Linked DNA regions of Homo sapiens. Changing the gene in region 2 together with the main gene of any one other region gives a genetic interaction. Each region holds a gene or a part of one and is shown on either strand. Other genes may lie near its edges. The genes, in order: ATG10, GTPBP4 and PITRM1.

Region 1 (3,657 bases), on a different chromosome or scaffold from region 2:
CAAAGAGGTCTCCAATCAAGTATTAAGCAGCCTGGGGCTAGGGCTATATTCAGGGAATTTTACTTGGAAAAAAAAATCAATAGACAACAGAAGGCATCTGTGGTATTCAGGTCCAAGAGAAACCAAAAGTATGACGGCTCACTACAATCTGGAGTCAGAGTGGATCTTATATAACTTTACCACAATTCTTGCTTTCAGTATTACAAAGGAAAATACCTCCTTCTCCCCCTACAACAGGCCCAGGATCCAATGGCAATTGGATCTCTCTCCAGTGGGAAGAAGTTTGAAGTTTTTAAAATATTTACTTAACAGAATTAAAGTATTTTATTTCAATATGAGTGCCATATAATTGTGGTGCTTCCATAGGATGGAATGCGATGGAGTCATTAAAGTATACATTTTTAAATGTATACTTTACGGAGACTGAAAAGAACATGATGCATTAAACTACTCACCTCCATGGGAAGACATGTCTGTCCATGGGTAGATGCTCCTAGATGTGACATCACAGACCCATTCTTAATTTGAAAGTGTATTTTGCACATGTAGCCATCAGAACAGTCCTGTGTTTCATCACCAAAAAATATATAAGAAAATGCCAATTATTTTAAGAATTCATCATTTTAAGAACCACTTCCCATAAGTTCCAAACTGATCAGTGAAAAACTAAATGTACTAAATGAGACTATATGGATAAAGAGACTAGTCCAACACCCTGTACGTAGTAAGTACTCAATAAATGCAAGTTTTATTCTCCTACCTCTCTTATTTATTAATGATGTTTCCACCCTCCTAGATTAAACCTTTCCCTTTTTTCCTGACTAGTCCATAGCACCAAGATCACAGAACAAAACTTAAGCTTATAGAAATAGCTTGTCACATAATTAATATTGATTTTCATGGCATACACATAGAGAACAATTTTAGGACTTGAAATAGATCTTGAAGCTGCAAGAAAGCTTCCATTTCAATTTCTTTCTCAAGGCAAGATCTCTATGAAAATGTCCCAGAAAGGTACTTATGCATCTCAGCAACTGCCTGAGTACCTCCAGGAACTGGCCCTTGTTACTCCCTTACACAGCGGTCATTTCCATTTTAGTGCATTGTACATTAAGAAAGTTTTGTCCTGTATTTCACATCCTTTAACTTACTTAGTTCTGCCCTCTGAAGTCTAATCCCTTTTCCACACAGCTGTTCTTCCAAGCGCTGAAGAAATGACCACCATTTGCAAATACTCCTTACAAAATATGGTTTCTGAGCCCTTTACCAGTATTTGTCTCCTGTTTCTTGTACTTGCTCTTAAATACACTAATGAATGATGTTCATCTAATTGTGGCCAGTTCCATTTTTTTAAGGTAACACTTTTTTGAATTCAATAAAGTCATGTGTAAGAATATAATACCTCCCCAAGAACAAACATACATGCCAATAAATATTAATTCCCCACCACATTGTCATACCAACATTTACATTTTAATAGAATTAAAATAATAAGGACTAAGGGGTTAATCTTCCTATAAGAAGAGGGAAATTTGGATGCAGTGACACAAACAGGGAAGAAAGCCATGTGAAGATGAAGACTGGAGCGGTGCATCTAGGAGCTAAAGATTGCCATCAGCCACTGGAAGCTAGAAGCAGTAAGGAATGGTCCTTCCCTAAAGCCTCTGGTGGGAGCAGGACCCTGCCAACATCTTGATTTCAGACTTCTAACCTCCAGAACTGTGAGAGAATAAATTTCTGTTACTTTAAGTCACCCAGTTTGTGGTTCCTTGTTATAACATTCCTAGGAAACTAATACAGTAACTCTATTTTTTAAGACACTTGACAGCACCTTAAGAATGCCTCCCAGTAAGTTGTGCTGACAAACAGCCAGCTCTCACTCAGGGGGCTGCACTGGTTAGTTGTTGATTGGTTAGATCCAACTCATTCTGATTGGTTGATGCCTCTGTCACAGGTTGCTAAATATTTTTAATATCATTCCTGCCTGGAAAGTAGGCCATCAGATATCCAATACTGTCATTTTTAATTATTTCATTAAGGATATCCATTTTGTAGATGGAATTACTGTTTTAAATTCCAGCTCTACACTATCTGACCACAAAGCAGATCCTGTAATGGTCTTCTACCATTGAAACCTTCGTATTTAGAAAAATGTAAATTTAACATTGGCTTAAACTGAGAAAGATATATGTAATGACTGTTGTCATTGCCACTGTTTCACATCAAACATCCATTCTTCCTTCTTTTGGAGCAGTAGTCATTGCTCCTCTAAGGAACAATTGCTCCTCAATTCTCCTGATTGAGAAGGGAATGGTTCCTTAGAGGAGCATTGGCTACTGTTACACTAATTACAGCTCCAGGGATAGACACAGATCTCTGATCCTGCCCATCAGTACTGCCGGCCCCAGAGACTCTGGAGGACAAATGATTACAGCTCCAGGGATAGACACAGATCTCTGATCCTGCCCATCAGTACTGCCGGCCCCAGAGACTCTGGAGGACAAATGATCTACATCACAGCCAATGGGATGAAATTCAGGATTTGGTTTTGGGGGGTTGGGAAAGGTGGCTGTTCTCTTCTCCACTAGGTTTGAGCCAGACAGACCACAAAAAAAAAAAAAAAAAAAACCTGGCAGCCATCATGTAATTAAACGAAGTTGGCTCTGCAACTCAGAGGAAAGCAAGACCATGAGATACAGAGAAACCACATTCTGACTACATTATTTACACCAACCATATCTGAAACTAGTTCTATCTCAGATTTTTCAATTACATGGCCCCAAAAAGTCCCTTCTTTGCTTCACCCAATGGGTTGGGTTTTCTGTCACTTGCAACCAAAATAATTTTGCTATTAAGTAACATAAATTTGTGTTTATTAGTTTAAAAATAGAAGATTTCTATTGTATTGTCAATCTTGAGATAGATAATCAATAGTTGATTATATAAAAGATTTACCATATACAGTCATGCATCACTTAACGGCAGGAATACCTTCTGAGAAACACGTCATTGGGCTATTCTGTCATTGTACAAACATCATAGACTGTGCTTACACAAACCCAAATGGTATGGCCTCCTACATACGTAGGCTATAGACATAGTTGCTTGCTCCTAGGCTGCAAACCTGTACAGCATGTTACTGTATTAATTGCAGGCAATTGTAACAAAATTTGTGTAAAATTTGTAAGTATTTGTGTATCTAAGCATATCTAAACAAAGAAAATGTACAGCAAAAATACAGTATTATAATCTCATGGGAACACTGTACATGTGGTCTGTTCTTGACCGAAATGTCATTATGCAGCATGACTATACGGTAAAACTATAATAGCATGTGTTTGAGAGAAAAATTACCCAAAGTCTGCAATTTCAAAATGATCTAGCCATAGAGATAAAAACCAAAACTCTCAGGATATTCAGAGAACACGGAGCTGCACTGTGTGTACTAAATATAGCTCATTAAATGAGGGTAACTGCTCTATTTTGTATTTTTCAATACCTGAGCCCTGGTCACATAACCTCCTCTTAAGGGAACATAAAATTTAGTAAAATTCTAATAACAATGCAAAATACATCTCCTTTGACATTAAAAGAGGTGAGTCAAAAATTCGTGTGCACCTATGTTATAAAATCTAAATAAATTATCTGGTCTCTTTC
Region 2 (3,657 bases):
ACCGTGCCACTGCACTCCAGCCTCAGTGACAGAGCGAGACTCCATCTCAAAAAAAAAACAAAAATAAAATAAAAAAAAAAGTGCACTGTAGACCAAACATCTACAGAACATGTCATCCAACCGCTGCATAAAACACATTCCTCTCCTCAGTCCATGAAACATTCTCCAGGATAGACCATATGTTAGGCCACAAAACAAATCTCATCAATTTTTAAAAATTGCCAAGTATCTTTTCAGACCACAGTGGAATAAAACTAGAAATCAATACCAAGAGATACTTTCAAAACTGTAAAAAAAAAAAAAAAAACCACCCATGAGAATTATAAACATGTCCCAGAATGACCAATGGATCAATGAGGAAATTAAGGAAGAAATTAAGAAGGTGATGCTGACATTGCTGGGCCAGGACCACAATTTGAAAGCCACTCCACCAGTGCACGCTTCTAAAAGCATTTATCATGAAGGATGCCTATTAAAAAGGTTGTAGGATTCAATCAGTTTGAAAAATTATGTCCAACAATACTGCCTGCCTCTTGGAGAAAGCTAGCAGGCACGTCTCACTCATAGATCCAGATCCAGAAAGCCCAAATTCCAAGATCCTCCTTCTCCTTCACTCAATCATTAGTCTCCAAACTCATTTAATCACAGAACCTGTTTTATGAAGTAACACCTGTGAGCACCCTTCTCCAACAGTTCTCTCCTAAGTAATCACATTTTCCAAAAGTCCAACCCATCAAATACAGATGCTTCCACACACTCAAGAACAAAGAATCCAGAAACTTATGTTTTCGTTTTAGTTTGCCAATAACTAAGTTTTTATTATGTCTTTTCACTAAACCACTGAGGATATTATCTCAACTATAAAATACAATTGTGGACTAGTATTGCTAAAATTCCTTCATCTAAACTTTGGTTGTCTGAGATGAGAATTCAGAATTGGTAAGTAAGAAATATTCAAAATATTAACGTGATTTACCTGATCATCTTCAGAAAGTTCAGCTATTCTCTTCACATCACATTTGTTGGCTACAACTATGAGAGGCTAGGCAAGGAAGAAAAATAATGAAATCATTATTCTCGTACTGCAGGATATGAAGCAAAACATGAGTGACCACACACACCTTGTTGATGAAGAGAGGTCTGATGTTCTGGAAGAGTTCTAGCTGCTCCCTCAGCCCATGCCCACACTGCTCAGACAAATCCATCACATACAGGACCGCAGCACGGAGGTGGGCCAGGGCAGTGATGGCCTGCATCTCGATGGTGTTCCTATCCTCCAGAGGGTGGTCCAGGATCCCAGGAGTGTCTACAACCTAACACAGCCAGACCTTGTCACTGAAAGCACACTCACCCACAAGCTTCTTGTCCAGCACATCCCAGAAGTCACTCACACACACCCAACCAGACCTAATAATCTTACAGCAGAATTGTAGTTAAAAAAAAAAAAAAGTAGGGCTGGGTGCGGTGGCTCACACCTGTAATCCCAGCACTCTGGGAGGCCGAGGCGGGTGGATCACGAGGTCAGGAGATCGAGACCATCCTGGCTCACACGGCAAAACCCCATCTCTACTAAAAGTACAAAAAATTAGCTGGGCGTGGTGGCGGGCACCTGTAGTCCCAGCTACTCGGGAGGCTGAGGTAGGAGAATGGCGTGAACCAGGGAGGCGGAGCTTGCAGTGAGCCAAGATAGCGACACTGCACTCCAGCCTGGGTGACAGAGACTCCATCTCAAAAAAAAAAAAAAAAAAAAAAAAGTAGGTCTCCCAAACTGAATACCACAAAATAAACCAGTGACAGAAAAGTACATACTATTTAAACATCAAAAAAGGGAGGAGGAACCCTGTAGAGCTCAAAGAAATGCTAGCCATGATGTTGAGAGAAATGACTCCTCTTTTTACCAGCGACATCATAAAACACAAAAACTGGGATAACTGAGAACCCTCCCATGTCTTAGGAATTACTTTCTTCACAATTTACAAAATTAGAGTGTGGAAACATTGCTTCTTGCTTTGTATTTATTTATTTTTTTTGAGACAGAGTTTCGCTCCTGTCGCCCAGGCTGGAGTGCAATGGCACAATCTCGGCTCACTGCAACCCCTGTCTTCTGGGTTCAAGCGATTCTCCAGCCTCAGCCTTCCAAGTAGCTGGGATTACAGGCACCCACCACCACGTCCAGCTAATTTTTGTATTTTTAGTAGAGATGGGGTTTCGCCATGTTGGCCAGGCCAATCTCGAACTTCTGACCTCAGGTTAGCTGCCTGCCTTGGCCTCCCAAAGTGTTGGGATTACAGGCGTGAATCACTGTGCCCAGCCTGCTTCACGCTTTTAAACTGTATATATGCCATTTCTGATAACAGAGTTAGAAATGACACAAAGATAATTTCATTTTATGTTAAGAAAATGCAGAAATCCACACTGGCAGCTGGCTGCCTCCCCTGAATTATATCAGAGACATGCGACCTGTTCTTATGCATCCCAAGAGCTCAGATGAGTTTTCTTTATGATGATGGAGAAATTTCAAGTTCTTGATAAACCAAGATATTTGTTCTGTTTAAAGACAAGACTCTTGCCAGGTGCAGTGTGACTCACACCTGTAATCCTAGCACTTTGGGAGGCCAAGGCGGGCAGATCACCTGAAGTCAGGAGTTCAAGACCAGCCTGGCCAACATGGTGAAACCCCCTCTCTACTAAAAAAACACAAAAATTGGCCGGTCGTGGTGGTGTGCACCTGTAATCCCTGCTACTCGAAAGGCTGAGGCAGGAGAATCACTTGAACCTGGGAGGTGAAGGTTGCAGTGGACTGAGATCATGCCACTGCACTCCAGCCTGGGCAACAAGAGTGAAACTCCAACTCAAAATAAATAAATGAATAAAAATAAAGACAAGACTCTCACCTGCCAACGTAGATACTTATAATCCATGTGCCCAACAAACAGAGACTTGGTTGTGAACGCATAGGGCTGGACATCCACGTCTGCTCTCGTCACCTGGAACAAGTGAGAACTTTCAGAATCACCTCATTTCCTCTGTGTACACGTGGGATCTGTGTGTTTTAACAAGACTGATTTTGGGTAGGAAATAACCATAGAAGAAACCTCACACGATAAAACTGCATCGAATAGGAGCCTGGTACCTCTCCCTTTGCACCACCAGGCCAAGGACTGGGGTACTAGGACAGCGTGAGGGCTGGCATTTGGAGGACAGCCACCACCTCCCCTCACCCTCCCAAGTCCTGCCCCACCGCCTGCAATGCCCGCAGAGCTCTTTATGATGACAGGCATGTTCTGTCTGCACTGTCCAAACCGGGCCACCAGTCATGCACTGCTAATGAACTTTCAGTATGTGGCTCATGTGACTGAGGAGTTGAAATTTTCATTTTGCTGAATTAAACTGCAATTTAAAAAGCCACCCAGTGCAGTGGCCACCAAATCGGCCACAGAGCACTGGCTCAGAGCTCAGGGCAGGTTCAGAGCTGACAAGCATTTGAAAAATCAGCAAGGACCCTGCAGAGCTTTGCTGGTCACCATGTCACAGCAACCTGTAGACAAAATAAAACTCACAAATCTATTTCAAAGCAAAAGTGATCTTAAGGTAGGGTGGAGTGATTCATGCCTGTAATCCCAGCACTTCAGGAGGCTGAGGCAGGAGGATGGCTTG
Region 3 (2,435 bases), 2.1 Mb from region 2:
ATGAATCTTAGTTACTTGTCCTCTTGATTGCAATCCTAGCTGCATGTTAAAACCACCAAGGGGTGGGTGGGGCGGAGGTGGGTTCAAAAATCTGATAGCCAGCTTCTCCTCCAGGCCAAGCCACAGTCCTCGCTGGGACCTAGGTTGGAACTCTCCGGAAGACTCCTGCCAGAGTAGACACGGCTGCTGGGATGACAGCCCTGCTGCCCTGGTGGGCCCCCCTCCTGTAGGGACAGCGTTTCTGCCTCTTAGCTCTAGTCTGCAAGAGAGAACAGCTGCGCCTCAGAAATGGGGGCAGAGAGCTGGGTGGAGGGAGAGGAGAGGCCAAAAACAAACTCTGTTTGGGAAATCAGAGTCCGACAGCCAAGAAAGAGCTAGCGCGGAGGCTTTCCTTTCTGGCTCTGTAACGATGAAGCAAGCGCTTACTCACCCCAACCCACTTGCTTCTCAGGACGGTTTCCATGCAGCCGCCGCGGTGAACTCCCGTCTGGTGGACACTCCCCCAGGGCCTCGGTGTGATGGAGTTTCCTGAATCAGCGCAGGCAGACGTGGGACACCCTTGTGCACCTTTTCATTTTACTTCTGTTTTTAAATAAAGGCCCTAAATGCTGCTTAAAATAATGACTCAAGCAGAGGTTAAGTCAGAGTTGCCCTTTATTTTTAGATTCTTAAATATTCTAGAATGAGGTAAAACGAGCCTGCCAGTACAAAGTGAAAATTCTACATGGTGCATCTTTGGCGCTTCATGCATGATTATTTCAATGAACCTCTTCCTGGTCACTCTTAAGATAGATCTGAGTTTTTGACTCGCCAGTCAAGGGCTTTGGCGACACTCAATGACATAATATTCTTGGAAAAAGCAGTAGCATTTCTGACTTTTCATATTCAGCTCGGAGGTGTATTGTCTCGGGCTCCTGTGCAGTCGAGCGCCACGGCTGCTCATTGGATGATCCAGGATGGGTCCTTGGCAATTTTCGGGTTCTCGGGTCCGAGGATGGCCAGGCCGTGTGTGCTCTTCCCAGTGCCGAGGTATCTGAGAGGAAGGCAGGCGTGGTCAGCAAGGACTGGCTTCTGCGTGAGCGCTGTTAGAGTCAGCACGAGGGCTTCCAGTCCCAGACGCTGTCTCCCCCGCTCCCCACTCACCTATCGCTCACGGCCAGGAGCTTGTCGTGGCTGACAGCAAAGAGCTGCTCTCTGTGGGCCTGCTTCATCTCATCCGAGAGGCCGTACAAGAAGTGGTCCATTCCTAGAAGACAATCCACAGGCACGATGGAGCCGCTGCCCGGGAGCTCGCGTTGTGGGCTGTGCACTCATGTCCCGGAGGGGACACAGGCATCTCACTGTCATTTCACGTGCATGTTTCAACCACAGGGATGTGTCTAACAACCCAGAGATCACACCCCGACCTCCAGCTCCCACGTGCCACGCTGACCCCTACCCACGCCTGCTTCTGCAGCAGGGATGCAGTCAGCGCCGCGTGAGGCTGATGATGCTGTGAGCAAAAGCGGCTCCAGAGAGTAACGTGGCCATGCCCGGGCCGTGCCCACGTCCTCCTTCCACCCTAAAGAGCCCGGACACTGCCATGGGTTGGCCCCACTGGGTCTCAGGTCAGTAAAACAAATGACAGGATGCACTCTTCTCGCCCGGATGTCAGGAAGCGTGTTTAGGGTGTCAGACGTGGAAATCGTATCACAAGCAAGGATGGAGGCACCAGAAGCTAGTGCTCCTGCCCATGCATGCCGGGAACTTGGAAAACAGCAACGTCATCTGTGAGGCTGTGGGTTGAGATTCTCACTGTTATACTCAAAATACCTTTGTCTGAAGGAGCGACAGGAGCATCTACGGTTGAGAAGACAGAAAGTTTGGCTTCGTCGATGTCTTGCTGTGTGAATTTTCCAGACTTAGCCCAGTCGACAGCCTTCCCAAAAGACTGGAGCGTCTCTATTGTATTTGGGTCCCTAGGAAACCCAGAGAAATAAACGGGCAAGCATTTTACCAGTGGACAAGTTTATGACAAACCTCTGTCGACTTAACAGTTCAACATCTTCTATGGGTTAACAGCTCTATTTTATATCTGATTTAGTCCAAACAGCCCACTGACAAATCGCTCAATTACTCTCAATGGAAATTTAAATCTGATCACATAAGCCTTTCAACATGTTCTCCCTCTTAGACAAGGTCTGTCTGCACAAAGTCCTCCCTAGATTATTTAAATACACTTCTCTGTGACCTCATCAGGAGAGGAAAGTCAGTGGAGGGTAGGGGCAGGTCAGGATTACAGGGAAATTACAAAGACTTACATGGAAAAATTAAGCAAACAAAGGTTTTCCTTTCATCTCCCTGAAGACACACCCAGGGTAGTACAGGAATCAGCCTGAGGGGGCCAATCCAGACTTCCCTTCGTGTAAATGCAAAGAGCCCAGCCCTCCCTTCAC

What was found.
Region 1: of GTPBP4 (region 2) and ATG10, changing one suppresses a phenotype caused by changing the other (phenotypic suppression), as found in Homo sapiens cells (one large-scale study listed by BioGRID).
Region 3: changes in GTPBP4 (region 2) and PITRM1 together harm fitness less than expected from each alone (positive genetic interaction), as found in Homo sapiens cells (one large-scale study listed by BioGRID).

The regions. Positions count from the first base shown.
Region 1 is NC_000005.10:82,055,401-82,059,057, reverse strand, and holds part of ATG10 (ubiquitin-like-conjugating enzyme ATG10), read right to left. Parts: intron 564-3,657; coding exon 456-563; intron 1-455. UniProt on the Homo sapiens protein: E2-like enzyme involved in autophagy. Acts as an E2-like enzyme that catalyzes the conjugation of ATG12 to ATG5. ATG12 conjugation to ATG5 is required for autophagy. Likely serves as an ATG5-recognition molecule. Not involved in ATG12 conjugation to ATG3.
Region 2 is NC_000010.11:998,333-1,001,989, reverse strand, and holds part of GTPBP4 (GTP-binding protein 4), read right to left. Parts: intron 2,988-3,657; coding exon 2,895-2,987; intron 1,314-2,894; coding exon 1,122-1,313; intron 1,043-1,121; coding exon 977-1,042; intron 1-976. UniProt on the Homo sapiens protein: Involved in the biogenesis of the 60S ribosomal subunit. Acts as a TP53 repressor, preventing TP53 stabilization and cell cycle arrest.
Region 3 is NC_000010.11:3,137,092-3,139,526, forward strand, and holds the end of PITRM1 (presequence protease, mitochondrial isoform 2 precursor), read right to left. Parts: intron 1,959-2,435; coding exon 1,813-1,958; intron 1,247-1,812; coding exon 1,144-1,246; intron 1,034-1,143; coding exon 940-1,033; 3' UTR 637-939; downstream 1-636. UniProt on the Homo sapiens protein: Metalloendopeptidase of the mitochondrial matrix that functions in peptide cleavage and degradation rather than in protein processing. Has an ATP-independent activity. Specifically cleaves peptides in the range of 5 to 65 residues.